Homo sapiens: one gene and its partner. The protein of the gene in region 2 purifies or fractionates together with the protein of the main gene of each other region. This does not show direct contact. Each region holds a gene or a part of one and is shown on either strand. Other genes may lie near its edges.

The links. Proteins that work in one complex are often made in the same cells at the same time.
Region 1: the proteins of LRRC41 (region 2) and DRG1 purify together in Homo sapiens (affinity purification with mass spectrometry; 5 studies listed by BioGRID and IntAct, with this or other methods). This does not show direct contact.

The regions. Positions count from the first base shown.
Region 1 is NC_000022.11:31,394,750-31,402,605, forward strand, and holds the start of DRG1 (developmentally-regulated GTP-binding protein 1), read left to right. Parts: upstream 1-4,854; 5' UTR 4,855-4,934; coding exon 4,935-4,976; intron 4,977-5,870; coding exon 5,871-5,994; intron 5,995-7,856. UniProt on the Homo sapiens protein: Catalyzes the conversion of GTP to GDP through hydrolysis of the gamma-phosphate bond in GTP. Appears to have an intrinsic GTPase activity that is stimulated by ZC3H15/DFRP1 binding likely by increasing the affinity for the potassium ions.
Region 2 is NC_000001.11:46,300,608-46,307,972, reverse strand, and holds the start of LRRC41 (leucine-rich repeat-containing protein 41), read left to right. Parts: upstream 1-4,356; 5' UTR 4,357-4,650; coding exon 4,651-4,849; intron 4,850-4,941; exon of another isoform or gene 4,942-4,987; coding exon of another isoform or gene 4,988-5,210; intron 5,211-7,365. Other genes in the region: UQCRH (cytochrome b-c1 complex subunit 6, mitochondrial isoform 1 precursor), read right to left, coding at 4,153-4,206. UniProt on the Homo sapiens protein: Probable substrate recognition component of an ECS (Elongin BC-CUL2/5-SOCS-box protein) E3 ubiquitin ligase complex which mediates the ubiquitination and subsequent proteasomal degradation of target proteins.

The DNA.
Region 1 (7,856 bases), on a different chromosome or scaffold from region 2:
GGAAAAAAAAAAGTCTCTTTGTATTCCCAGTGTCTGTCACCATCCCTGGCATATAATACAAACTGAACTGAAATGACTAGACATGGATCAAGGAATCACCAACTTGGATGGTGAAAGAAGCAGACTTTGATTTAAGGAGTACTTTTATAAACTTTTATTTTTTCCATTTATGAGACACATTTGTAGGGGAAAAACTGTCTTCATTATGCCCTAGATGTGCTCATTCCTGAGATTCCCCTTTCTTATTTTATTTTTTCATAGAGATGGAGTCTTGCCATGTTGCCCAGGCTGGTCTCAAACTCCTAGGCTGAAGCGATCCTCCTGCCTTGGCCTCCCGAAGTGCTGGGATTACAGGTGTGAGCCACCATACCCATCTGAGATTCCCCATTCTAAAAGGAAAACATCTATCACTCAGTAATGAAGTTAATCACTATCCTTCATCCAGGGCTTCCCATTCTCTACTGCTACAATATACTTGGAATTTTGATCTGTTTAGAAGGTAGCCTTAAAAAAATGGTAATGGCTGAATGTGGTGGCTCATGCCTGTAATCCCAGCACTTTGAGAGGCCGTGGTGGGTGGATCACTTGAGTTTAGGAGTTCAAGACCAGCCTAGGTAACATGGTGAGACCCTGTCTCTACTAAAAATACAAAAAAAAAAAAAAAAGTTGGGCATGGCAGTGCAAGCCTGTGGTTCCAGCTACTTGGGAGGCTGAGGTGGGAGGATGGCCTGAGCCCTGGAGGCGGAGGTTGCAGTGAGCCTAGATTGCACCACTGCACTCCAGTCTGGGTGACACAGTAAGACCCTGTCTCATAATAAATAAATAAATAAATAACATGGATTTTTCTTGTATCATTATCCTGTTACTTCTTCCATCAACCTGACTCAATTATTAAGGTGTCTATAATAACATATACAGACTACTTAGAAAAAAAATTAAATACTTTTTCTTTCTCTTTATGTTATTTTATTCTAAAATTTTTGTTGATATTTAATAGTTGTACATATTTGGGGGCTACATGTGGTATTTTGATACATGTATACAATGTGTCATAAAATCAGAGTAACTGGGATATACATCACTTCAAACATCTTTTCTGCTTCTTGAAAAAAAACAATTTCTCTCTTAAAATTTCCATTTTTAAAATATCTTTCAAGAGGTTGTTGTAGCTGCACATCTGCTGGTGCTGGAGATAGATATAGTATCACTCCTTCCTCATGGGATCATGTCTTTTTTGTTTTGTTTTTTTCTTCTTTGTCTGTTTTGTTTTTTTGAGACAGGGTCCCACTCTGTCACCCAGGCTGAAGTGCAGTGGCATGATCACAGCTTACTGCAGCCTCGTCTTCTTGGGCCCACCTCAGCCTCCCGAGTAGCTGAGATTATACCACCACACTGATTTTTTGTAGAGACGGGGTTTCGTCATGTTGCCCCCTGTACCCAGCTAATTTTTTTTATTTTCGTAGAGATGAGGTATTGCTGTGTTACCCAGGCTGGTCCCAAACTCCTGGGCTTAAGCGATCCTTCTGCCTTGGCCTCCCAAAGTGCTGGGAGTGAGCCAGGCGTGAGCCACCAAACCTGGCCAGGGATCATGGTTTAATGGGAGTCAAGAGAAGTAAAACAGTGCCCGAGAAAGCCTATGTATTTGACCACATATAATTGTTCTGGAATGGTGGGAGTGTCTCATCAAGAGATGAAGCTTTTCTGTCAATCTTTGTTTTACTTATTTATTATTTATTTTAGAGGTAGTTTCTCGCTCTTTCACCCAGGCTGGAGTGCAGTGGTGGGATCATAGCCCAGTGTAACGTCAAAGTCCTGGGCTCCAGTGAACCTCCTGCCTGAGCCTTCCCAGTAGCTAGGACTACAGGTGCGGGCCAACAAGCCTGAATAATTTTTTTTTTTTTTTTTGAGACAGGGTCTTGCTGTTACCCAAGCTGGAGTGCAGTGATCTGATCATGGCTTACTGTGGCCTTGACCTCCTGGGCTCAAGTGATCCTCCTGCCTCAGCCTCACACATAGCTCAGACTACAGGTATGTGCTACCACGTCTGGCTAATTTTTAAATTTTTTGCAGACCGGCTAATTTTTTTTTTTTTGTAGAGATGGGGCGTCTCCCTATGTTGCCCAGGCAGGTCTTGAACTCCTGGCTTCAATGCCCAGGCTGGTCTTGAACTCCTGGCCTCAAGCGATCCTCCCACCTCAACCTCTGAAAGCACTGGGATTAAACTGTGAGCCACTGTCCCCGGCCTATTTATTTTTTACACATTTAATACCAAGGTGCTAGTGCTTTATTCATATGACCAAATGGGCTCTCCTTGCTGCAGTTGGTACTTAACAGACATGGGGTAGCTATGGCTCTTAGGAGCTGAACCTAAGGTCCTGGCCTTGGCCTCCCAGCCTGGATACTTCTTTTTTTTTCTTCCTTGAGATAGAGTCTCGCTCTTGTCGTCCTGGCTCCAGGCTGTAGTGCAATGGCATGATCTCGGCTCACTACAACCTCTGCCTCCCGGGTTCAAGCGATTCTCCTGCTCAGCCTCCTGAGTAGCTGGGATTACAGGCGCCCGCCACCACGCCCGGCTAATTTTAGTATTTTTAATAGAGACGGGGTTTCACCATGCTGGCCAGGCTGGTCTCGAACTCCTGACCTCAGGTGATCCACCTGCCTCGGCCTCCCAAAGTGCTGGGATTACAGGGGTGAGCCACTGTGCCCAGCCCCAGCCTGGATACTTTTTTTTTTTGAGACTGAGTCTCCCTCTGTCGCCAGGCTGGAGTGCAGTGGCACATTCTTGGTTCACTGCAACCTCCGCCTCCCGGGTTCAAGGGATTTTCCTGCCTCAGCTTCCTGAGTAGCTGGGACTACAGGTGCATGCCATCATGCCTGGCTAATTTTTTGTATTTTTAGTAGACACCGGGTTTCACCGTATTAGCCAGGATGGTCTCGATCTCCTGACCTCGTGATCTGCCACCCACCTCGGCCTCCCAAAGTGCTGGGATTACAGGCATGAGCCACCGCGCCCGGCCTAAATACTTGTTATGTGCAGGAACATATCTGATTCACTCTCTACTCTGTCCCCAGTGTTGTCACAGTGCCAGGCAGCAGTTGGAGCTCTGTAAATAACGATTGCATGAACAGGATGGCCACCCAGGACTCGGGAAAATGAGTATTACTCTTTGGTGCCTATTGACAGTTCAGGGCCCCAAGGTGGGTCCCAGGGTGTCTTTGAGCAGTAAGTGTTAACTTATCTGCAGGCCTCATATAATAGATTTGCTAAGGAGCACCTACTCACAGAGCAGTGATGCCCTTGATATTGTCAGCCAATTAATTCCTTAAGTACTTCAAGTTAGGATAGGCCTGCTGATTTGATTTTATCTGTCTTTTAAGATTGATCTTTGATCATGTCCCATTCCAGCTGGACCTCCTCATCTTCCCTCCTCCATTGCTAATAGTGTGGGATCTAATTACCTCATCATCCCTTAATTTATTTATGAAAAAGGCTGAGGTTAAAGAAAAGAAAGAAGAAACTCTCTTTGGCCCTTTGGGGACCTTCTGTAAAAGCTTTCCCTTCTGTTTCTCCCTCTTTATGCACAAGAAAACCTCCCTTTTTTGTCTCTGGGAAGTTAGAATAGTTCTTGTTTACAAATTTAACTAAATTAAACTTCCCTCCCAGGGCTGGGTGGAGGCCAGCCCTGTGGGTTAAGCCTGGCCTGTCGACTGTGGGTTAAGCCTGGCCTGTCGACTCCCGCTGGAATAATCAATCTATCAAAACAACCCATTGATCCTGAGGCAAACCGCTTTCAAAACCACCACATAGTTCCTGGACGTCCTGGCTTCCTCATGACACTTGGGGAAGAGGAGTCTTTTGAAATTTTAAATTTTATTATTACACAAGTAATACATGGATACATTCGTCTTGTAAAAATTTAACTTCAAAATTCTGTGGAATAAAATGTGAAAGGCCTTTTCTTTGCATCCCATCCCACAGTTAAGAGCTTCTGATGTATTTTTCTGTTTAGGCCTTTAAACTGCACGTTCATACACGTACACCTATATAAATGTACATTTAATTTTAAAAATAACATAAATGGTATCACTACGTAGGTGCCCTTCTGCTAGTTGTTTTCCCATTTAACATGTCCTGGGTAGCCAGTCAGACCACAGATCTACGTTTTAACGGCTGTAATCATATTTCAAAAACAGGATAGAGGCATTATTCATTTATCCATTTTCCTACTGATGGGTGTTAATATAGATTTCAATTTTTTGGTATTACAAACTATGTTGCAAGCAGCAGTTCTCTGGGAATTATCCATTCAAGTATGCACTTATTTTGGGCTCCCCATGTGCTCTACTCGGGGTTCGGAGTAAACAAAACCGACCTAAAAATAATTTTGAATGATAGAAAGGGGGCATTTTCTTTATCCAAGGGGGTGAGGCAGGCTGAAGATGGGTCTCTACTCCCTCCAAGACCATGGAGGGCGTCGGGGTGTCACCCCAGCTGTGAAAAAGGGACCCAGGACCCGCAGATGCTGGCGAGGAACAGGGGTGCGGAGCATGAGTCGGCTTTGCACCACGCCCTGGGGTCTCCAGCACTGAAGCGTTCAGTACCATGCAGAGCAGCTGGGAGCGGGTCCCGCTGGGCGGGGCCGAGCTGCGCGCGACCCTCGGCGCGCTCGGGGAGGCCCAGACAGGGGTGGCCTCTCTGGCCTCCGCTCCCGCGGGCTCTATGACACCGCACTGGCTCGCGGGACGGGGCGGGGTCGGGTGAGGGGGAGGAGACAGCCCCACGCTTTGCGACTCGCGGTGACCCCTACGCGGAACTCTCTCGCGGTAATTCGAAGTACCGCGCCTGCGTGCTGCAGTAGCGCCTGGTGGCGGTGGCAGTTTGCCCGCGGGTGTGTGAAGGGAGACAGTGTGGAGGCCACAGGGTACTCGCCACGATGAGCAGCACCTTAGCTAAGATCGCGGAGATAGAAGCAGAGGTAATGGACGCAGCTGGCGGTTCACTCTTAGTCTGAGCATTCCTTCTTTGGTGGCGTCGCTCCTTCCTGTTCTCCTTTGAGCCGCGTCAGGACCGGGCCTAGATTCCGCGACTTCTCTCAGCGAGGCCCGTGTTCCGACTGCCCTCTGCCACGATTAGGAGTCCCCGACTCTCCTCAGTCAGGGCCCCCTTTCCCCTCGTCCCGCGTCTACGCTCTCGGACTCCCCTTTGCCCGGGCCCGCGTTCCGCACCCCTGCACCTTAGGCCCTTAGTCCGTTCCCCCTCCCAGTGTTTGGCTCCTGTTCTGATGTTGTTTCTTTCCGTTTTGCTCTGAGAAACACTGAATCCTGTCCCTTATTCCATCTCTGACTTGGTCAGATAGTTCAGGATCTTTCCTCATCATCCTTCGCTGCGTCCCCCTTATTCCCCCTTTTCCCAGTGTCTACCCTAATGACCCCCTGATTCAGAGTATTTGCTCCCGGTAATCGGATCTGGAAGTAAAATGACATCTGTGTGGGAGCAGTTTATTCCGCCTGGATAGTGTGTGATTCCATTGCGTGCGGCCCTGAGAGCGCTTTACAATTAGGAAAGTGGTGTCCCAGTGTTAGATGGATCCAAACAGCTGCAAATAGTAGAAAAGGAACCCGCAGACGGGTTTCAGTCTAGTCTGGGGGCACTAATTGGAATGACCTTAATCGTCTTTCCTCTTTGGGCTTTGCTTTGCTTTGTAGTGAGGGAAATGAGCTGGATGGAGGAGATAATGGACTTTTACTCTTTTAAAGCCTGTAAACTGGGTGTGCTAACATTAGTAGGACTTGGGGAAAAAAATTATCCTCTCAAAGCTGGGGGAAGCGTTCACTGCTTCTAATTTATGGCTGTGATTCCTCCCTTTTAGATGGCTCGGACTCAAAAGAACAAGGCCACAGCACACCACTTAGGGCTGCTTAAGGCTCGTCTTGCTAAGCTTCGTCGAGAACTCATTACTCCAAAGGGTGGTGGTGGTGGAGGTCCAGGAGAAGGTTTGTGTTCTTCTTCAATATATATATTTTTAGGTATAATTTTTGTCAAAATAGTACATACATGTGGTTTAAAAATAACTAAAGATGGCCCAGTGCAGTGGCTCAACGCCTGCAATCCTAGCATGCTGGGAGGCTGAGATAGGAGGATCACTTGAGGCCAGGAGTTCAAGACCAGCCTGATCAACATAGACCCCCATCTCAAAAAAAAAAAAAAGTTTTTTAAAAACAGAAAAATAACTAAAGATGTTCTACTAAAGTAGATTTATATTTTCTAAGCATGAATTCTTGAACTGTGTTTATTTTTATTCTGCCGGTTTCAGAGGCAAATGAATATTGTCTAAGTGTACTGTAGTTTTATTTATATCCTGCACTGATACAAAATAGATTTACATGCGCTGGGTGCAGTGGCTCACCCTTGTAATTCCAGCACTTTGGGAGGCTGAGGCGGGAGGATTGCTTGAGGCCAGGAGTTCGGAACCAGCAAAGCCCTGTCTCTATGGGCTTAGAAATGAGGGGTCCCCATAGGTATGAAAGAAGATGTACCAAAAAAAAAAAAAGGCTGGGTGCGGTGGCTCACGCCTGTAATCCTAGCACTTTGGGAGGCCAAGGCGTGGATCACGAGATCAGGAGTTCAAGACCAGCTTGGCCAGCATGGTGAAACCCCATCTCTACTAAAAATACAAAAATTAGCTGGGCATGGTGGCGCATGCCTGTAATCCCAGCTATTTGAGAGGCTGAGGCAGGAGAATTGCTTGAATCGGGACCCAGGAGGCAGAGGTAGCAGTGAGTGAGATTGTACCACTGCACTCCAGCCTGGGCTACAGAGCTAGACTCTGTCTCAAAAAAAAAAAAAAAAAAAAAAAGTATCCTAGCATGGTGGTGCATGTTTGTGGTCTCAGCTACTTGGGAGGCTGAGTTGGGAGGACTGCTTGAACCCAGGAGGTTGAGGCTGCAGTGAGTTGTGATGGCACCACTGCACTCCATCCTGGGTGATAGAGCGAGATCTCATCTTAAGAAAACCAAAGTAGGGCCAGGCGCGGTGGCTCACTCCTGTAATCCCAGCACTTCGGGAGGCCGAAGTGGGCAGATCACAGGTCAGGAGTTCGAGACTAGCCTGACCAACATGGTGAAACCCCGTCTCTGCTAAAAATACAAAAATTAGCTGGGCATGGTAGCACGAACCTGTAATCCCAGCTACTCAGGAGGCCGAGGCAGGAGAATCGCTTGAACCTGGGAGGTGGAAGTTGCAGTGAGCCGAGATCATGCCACTGTACCCCAGCCTGGGTGACAGAGCTAGACTCTGTCTCAAGAAAAAAAAAGAAAAAACAAAACCAAAGTAGATTTATATTGGCTTACAGAAATGTAAACCTATATCATCAACAAGATTAAAAATAAGTAAAAAAATTGATGCAAAGGGAAAACGTAGGAAAAATAAGTCGAAGCCAAGCGAGATAAGATTTAGGACTAAAAGGAATGGCGTAAGATCTGTGCACCTGGTAGAGAAGGGCCACAGATTTGACTCTGAACTTGTTGGCAGCCATTGTAAAAAGAAAAAAGAAAAAAAGAAAACCCAGTCAGTCATACAATTTACAGAATTTGAAAGACAAAAAAACAAAAACAAAACTCTTTTTAATTAATTAATTTGTTTATTTTAGTTATAAAAGGGCAGCTCCTCCATAGGCAGAGCAGGGCTACACCATAGGTAGAGTAGCTAACAACTCTATTTTTGGATCATTTTTCATACATATATTTGGGCTGTACCTTTTTTTTTTTTTTTTTTTTCGAGACAGGGTCTTGCTCTGTTGCCCAGGCTGGAGTACAGTGGTGTGATCACAGCTCACTGCAGCCTCAACCTCCTGGGC
Region 2 (7,365 bases):
GTTCACATGGGGCCTACATAATCTAAAGTATTTGTCCCAGTATTGCTACAAATAGCAAAATTTAGTCCTTACATCCCAAACCAAGTTAGGAGGAAAACCCATTTTTTTCTAGACTGTGAACTTGAATTAGGAATATGAAAACTGCTAAACCTAAAAACCCTTGTTTGGTCAGAGCTTAACTAAGGATGGTTAGTCACTGCTTTTTGGCTTGCTGAACTCCCAGAACCCCTAGTAGACTAAGTATATCAAATAAAAGTGCACAACTCCACTCATGAGCTTGGAAATACAGAACAGACCCCACCTATTCACTTCTGATTCAAATGCACAACCTCAAACTTAGTTTCCTTCTTCTTCAAGGATAGTAGTGTAAAAAACTGCCCATGGGAGCAACAGTTTAGGCCTAAATTTGGGATATAGTAAAATCTGACCTCAGAAATAAGGTGTTTGCCTGCCTGTGCATGCAGATACCCACATTTGGGGGCAAGGAAAGAAAAGGTATCTAGGGAAATAAAAAGAACTAGCTCAGGAATCATGTTTTCAGAACTCCAATACAGGGCCAGGTGAGAGGACTGCTTGAGACCAGCCTGGGCAACATGACAAGACCCCATCTCTAAAAAAATTAAAAACAGGCTGGGCATAGTGGTTCACACCTGTAATCCCAGCACTTTGGGAGGCTGAGGTGGCCAGATCACCTGAGGTCAGGAGTTCTCAATCAGCCCGGCCACCATGGTGAAACCCCGTCTCTACTAAAAATACAAAAATTACCTGGGCATGGTGGCACGCGCCTGAAATCCCAGCTACTCAGGAGGCTGAGGCAGGAGAATCACCTGAAACCAGGAGGCAGAGGTTGCAGGAGCCAAGATCCTACCCCTGCACTCCAGCCTGGGCGACAGAGAGACTCCGTCTCAAAAATAAATAAATTAGCCGGGCATGGTGGCGCACGTCTGTGGTCATGGCTACTCAGAAGGCCGAGGTGGGAGGATCCCTTGAGCCCAGGGGTTTGAGGCTGCAGTGAGCTATGACTGTACCACTGCACCCCAGTCTGGGTGACAAGAGTGAGACCCCGTCTCCAAAAAAAGTCCTAATACATGTTTCATCCTCTACCATGCCATTCAGTGAAGCCACCAAAGCTCATACAAGCTGGGAGTGAGGGGTAGGAAAGGTTCAATTTGGAATCCAGGCTATTTATTCTCACAATTGGCAAAGGTTTCTTCTAAATATGAAGATGCTATTTAGGATGTAAATTCTAGTTTTTCATTAACAAGGTTTCTTAATGCTGCTCTTTTAAAAAACATACTGAAAGCCGGGTGCAGTGGCTCATGTCTGTAATCCCAGCACTTTGGGAGGCCAAGGCAGGAGGATCACGAGGTCAAGAGATTGAGACCATCCTGGCCAACATGGTGAAACCCCATCTCTACTAAAATTACAAAAATTAGCTGGGCGTGATGGCACACGCCTGTAGTCCCAGCTACTCGGGAGACTGAGGCAGGAGCATTGCCTGAACCCAGGAGGCAGAGGTTGCAGTGAGATCGCGCCACTGTACTCCAGCCAGGCAAGAGCGAGACTCCGTCACAAAAAAAAAAAAAAAAAAACTGAAAAAGTTTTCCCAAAAAAACTAAAATTACATTCTGCCCGAGTTAGAAAACAGAAATTAGGACCGTAGATACAAGACCCTTATATCATTTCCCTATTAGCAATGCTACAACACTGGTAATTCTGTGTCACTGATAATTTTGTGTCAAAAATAACATGGCAGGTTTTGAAAAAATAAATCCAAATATGTTTGAATATGGATTGCTACATGTAAAATTTCCAGTCACTGAGAAAAACCAAGATCACACCAGATAAAAAGATTTAATCCTCAATAATTTTGCGTTCCTCAGCCGGGCGCGGTGGCTCAGGCCTGTAATCCCAGCACTTTGGGAGGCCGAGGAGGGCGGATCAGGAGGTCAGATCCAGACCATCCTGGCTAACACGGTGAAACCCTGTCTCTACTAAAAATACAAAAATTAGGTGGCGTGCGCCTGTAATTTCAGCTACTCAGGAGGCTGAGGCAAAAGAGAATCGCTTGAACCCGGGAGCGGAGGTTGCAGTGAGCCGGATCACGCCACTGCACTCCAGCCTGGGAGACAGAGCAAGATTCCGTCTCAAAAAAAAAAAATTATGGGTTCCTCATAGAATACCATAGTTTATTTTATTTTATTTATTTATTTATTTATTTTGAGACGGAGTCTCGCTCTGTCGCCCAGGCTGGAGTGCAGTGGCGCGACCTTGGCTCACTGCAAGCTTCGCCTCTCGGGTTGACGCCATTCTGCCTCAGCCTCTCGAGTAGCTGGGACTACAGGCGCCCGCCGCCACGCCCGGCTAATTTTTTGTATTTTCAGTAGAGAAGGGGTTTCACCATGTTAGCCAGGATGGTTTGGATCTCCTGACCTCCTGATCCACCCGCCTCGGCCTCCCGATCCACCCGCCTCGGCCTCCCGATCCACCCGCCTCGGCCTCCCAAAGTGCTGGGATTACAGGCATGAGCCACCGCGCCCGGCCAGAATACCCTAGTTTAAAACTGACTGCTTAATTACTTGCTTTTTCTCATCTATTGCAGCGGTGGATCTTGCTGACCTTTCTGAGGCAGGCTCCATTTCTTTCTTTAGTTTTTTTTTTTTTTTTTTTTTTTGAGACAGGGTCTCACTCGGGTTGCCTCGGCTGGAGTGCAGTGACACGATCACGGCTCACTGCAGCCTGGACTTCCTGGGCTCAAACTCCCGAGCAGTTGAGACCACAGGCGTTCACCACCATGCCCGGCTAATTTTTATATTTTTTGTAGAGACGGGGTTTCGCCACGTTGCCCAGGCTGGTCCAACTCCTGGACTCATGCTACCTGTCTGCCTCGGCCGTCCTCCTAAAGTGTTGGGATTACAGGCGTGAGCCACTGCGCCCGGCCTCAGGTTCTATTTCTTTTTAGAAATAATAAGACTAGAAAAATTAAGGGATAAATAAGTCTCCAATTATTCTGAACCCACAGCCCAGAATGGCTGCCCCCAAGTGACCAGAGAACAGACGGACAGGAAATGAGATTAGAAACAACTAGTAGCTGTGTCGCAAAATTGATAAGAGTCCTGGTTCTAGAACCGCGCTGCTTGGCCGCAATTCCTGGCTGCACCAATTTGGTAGCTGCATGACCTTAGAAAAGATATTTAACCTCTATGCTTGTTTCCTCATCTGTAAAAATGGCACTAATAGTACCCAACACTTACTTCATAGGAATAGTGTGTAGATGAAATGAATTAGGGCCGGGCGCGGTGGCTCACGCCTGTAATCCCAGGACTTTGGGAGGCCGGGGTGGGCGGATCACTAGGTCAGGAGTTCGAGATCAGCCTGGCCAACAGAGTGAAACCCCCGTCGCTACTAAAAACACAAAAATTAGCCAGGCGTGGTGGCGGACACCTGTAGTCCCAGCTACCTGGGAGGCTGAGGCAGGAGAATCGCTTGAACCCAGGAGGCGGAGGTTGCAGCGAGCCGAGACCACGCCACTGCACTCCAGCCTGGGCGACAGAGCGAGATTCCATCTCAAAAAAAAAAAAAAAATTAATTAGTGCATATAAAGCACTTGGAATAGCAAGCAGTCAATAATTATAGCAGCACTCTTTCTCTGGGAAAGAGCTCCCTCTTCCATCACAGAATCACATCGTACATTCTTTCATTGTCCCCAAAGACACACACCTTCCTCAAAGAAAAGGAACACAAGGCCAGGTCTTCCGAACCTCCATAGAAGATGTGGTAGGGATTCCTAACCTGAGCTGGGGCAAGGCGGTCTGTTTGCTCCCCAAATCTGTGAAACGCGGGCTTCAGAACATCTGACTGACTGCAAACATAGGTCATATTTTTACAAGACTTTAGTCCACAAAACATTTTCGCTCTCAAACCTTCACTACATTCACAGAATGCAGAAGCCGAGGCCCAGAGAAAAACTAGTCATCTATCTGTCCAAAGTCACCGGACGAATTCTGGGGAAAGGTCGAGGGAACTAGAGCTCCCGACTATGCAAACCCTAGAGGGTAAACTGGGGGCTAAGAGGGCCCCGTGCGTGTTTTGGCGGGCTAGGTCCTGGGCTTCAGGGCAGAGAAGAGGGCCGAGTGGATCGCCTTGCCTTACCTCCTCAGGATCTCCGGATTCGGTAAGCATCTTTTGCTCGTCCTCCAGTCCCATGTCTGGCTACGGTTCTAGATTCAACACGAGCAGCAACAGCGGCACCTAACCCAGTTCAGGATCAAGAAGGACTTGTAAGGGTCACTCAGCGGAAATCCGGCGATCTGGCCGGAAGTGCGGCACACTCATCGTGGTCGCGAACACATGCTCAGATTGGCATGTACTACCAGCCGCAGGCAGAGGTTAGGGGTAGCTGATGTTTGCACCCGAGGAGGCTTTGCTAAGAAACATCCCCTTAGTCATACCACACCCAAGTATAATTGATCTAGGAGTTTATCTAAAATAGTAGCTCCTAAGAGACTTGGAAAGTGTGCTAATTTCTTCGAAATTTCTTTAGAATAATTCACATTCTTCCCCATATCGCTTATGGAGCCGTCCTAACTGCTGACCTTTTCAAGATGGCGGTCCGCGGGCGACACTCTCGGGCTCGCGCACCTCCCCAAGATGGCGGCGCCCGAGGCCTGGCGCGCCCGGAGTTGCTGGTTCTGTGAGGTAGCGGCGGCAACGACCATGGAGGCCACGTCCCGGGAGGCGGCGCCAGCGAAGAGCTCGGCCTCGGGCCCCAACGCTCCCCCCGCCCTGTTCGAGCTGTGCGGGCGGGCGGTGAGCGCCCATATGGGGGTTCTGGAGAGCGGGGTGTGGGGTAAGTCGCGGGGTGAGGGGCTACCTCTGGCTAAGAGCAAGGGGCGGCCCAGCGGCCGGGGGGCGCGGGGGGCGAGGCCGGGAGGCCCGGGGCAAGGCCCAGCCTGGGGCGCTGAAAGCCAGCTCGTAGGATCGGAGAATGAATTTTGTGACTGACAGGGCTGGACAGAGTAAAGACGGAGACCTAAATGGGCAGGCTGACCCGCACCGCGGCCTGGCTCGGGGGCGCGGGGGGCGAGGCCAGGAGGCCCGGTCTGGAGCGAAGCAGGCTGGGCCCGGGCGACTGAGGCTGGATTGCGGCTGTGGGCCGCGCGAACTGACACTCGGCTGGGCCGGGCAGGAGAGTCTCGGATGTCGAACCGGTGGGCAGCGATGGCCCGGCTGCCCTAGGGCAGGGGCCGAGGTTAGGAGGCCCGGCCTAAGGCAAGGCCAGGCCAGGCCCGGGGCCACCGAACCTGACTGATGGCCCCGGGGCTCCAGCATCTGCCTGACACGCCACGGGGGTCGAGATTCCGGAGGCCAAGCCGATGGGCGGAGGGGAGGACAGCAGATTGGAGAGCGAGGGAATGGGGCAGGGGGAGAGGCCGAACGAAAGGGTCGGGGCGCCGCGGCCTGTCTGACGGCCCAGGGCTGACGGGAGCGAACCGACAACCGGGGTCTCGGGTGCCAAACTGACTAAGCGACCGAGCGACCGTGCGACCCGCAGGACAGGGAGCGCCGGAGGCCACTCGGATCGGCTCGAGCGGCGAGGAGGGACCGGAGAGCGAGTGGAGGGGGGCCCGGAGCGGCTTAAACAAGCGAGGGAGGCTCGAATGACGGACAGGCGGGAAGGGCCAAGGAGGCCCCAAGCGGGGCGACGGCCCGGGGATCCCGGACTGCCGGGCTGCCGTGGCAGGGGGCGCGGCGCCGCCAAGAGGCCTTGGGCTGAATGGGAGTGAACGGGGGCCCCAGGCCTGAAGGCGGCCGGGACCAAAGGGCCGGGCCTGGATGGAGGGCGGCCTGGGGCGCCGGGATGAACGGCCGGGGAGGGCGAACCGGCCAGTTGGGCTGGGAGGCGGGGCTGTGGGTTGGGGACCGCTGGCCGCGGCCTGGCCGCTGACGAGGGAAACTTGGGTCCGACGTGGGGCAAGTGAAAGAGGGGAAAGTGAGGCTCTGCCAAGCAGGCCTAGCCGCGCTGGGGACAGGGGAGGCCTCGGGCCTGAGAGGCTGCTGGCTCTGTGAGGGTGGGGTCGGGAGGCCGGGGTTGGAGTTGGGCGAAGAGGTGGCAGGCCCGGCCGAGGCCTGCTGGGGAGGGGGGCAGGAGAGCAGGCCCCGGGCCTGGAAGCGGCGCGGGGGAGGTTCCACCAGGAGGCCTTGCGGGTGGCCGTGGCGTCTTTGCAGGAGGAAGGCCCTGGTCAGGACAGGAGTGAGGACTTTGAGGACTCGAGGTTGCAGGGCGCGGAGTTTGAGTTATGCCATGAGGAGGGGGTGTGGGGAAAAGGCCCTGGAGTTTGGGGGGACTGAAGCTCCGGGATAAGCTGGAGGGTGGTCGGGGAGGCCCTTGGCTGTGGGAGTGGAGCCCAGTACCATGAGGCCTGAGTGTCCTGCATAGTGGTGGTGGAAGAGGCTTTTAGAAGTCGGCCGGTGTGCGGAGGGGACAGTGGAGGCCCCAGGCCAGCCAGCGGCTGAGAAGACAAGGGGCAGGCCGACCCATGGGGAACAGGAGGAAAGGCTCCGTAGAGCTGAGCAGGGAGCTCAGAAAAGTCCTAGGGCATGGGGAAGAAGGCAGAGAGGGTCTGGCTTTTCCGCCTGGAGCTTCTGGGATGCTAAGACTGGCTAAAAAGGAAGATGACTGGGTGCGGAGGCCCAGGTTGGGAAGCAGCAGCATTAAAGGTGCAGGCTAGAAAGAAGCAAGGAAAATCCCGGCTTAAGAAGAATGGAGAAAGGAAGAGAGGAGTTTGTGGGTAACTGGGGATGAGAATTCCTGTGGCTGCAAGAAGAGATGGCTAACTAGAGGGGAGCAGGTTGGAGGGAAAAGGGGTAAGGCTCTGGAGGAACTTCTTCCCGTGTGGCCTCTTCCCCCTAAAACAATTGACAGTTTACTGAATCTCCCTTTCCCCTTCTCCCTCCCCTACCACTGCTGTACATACCACCATCCCATTACTGGCTGAGCCCCCAGCCAAGTTGAGAGGAGACAGGGGAGGAAGAGCTCCTGTGGGCCTAGACCAGAAAAAGCTGAATCAAGTGAGGCCTTTTAGGAGAATAGCCAAGGAAGAGGCCTGCTAAGCATTGCTATTTTAGAGGAAGGTCTGTGTGGGCTAACAGCCAGGAAAGGCTTCCTGGAGGTAGTGGACTAGCATCGCTTTGTGTAAGGAGTTGGGGCAGCGGGTGTATAGAGGCAGCAGGAAAGGGTACAATGAGGAAACTTTAAAATAAGGTATATTATACCTTGAATACCAGGATATGGAGTTTGGACTTTATCATGAATGCAGCAGAGAGACCTCCAAGGGTTTTGAAGAGGGTAGTGTCATCACCAAG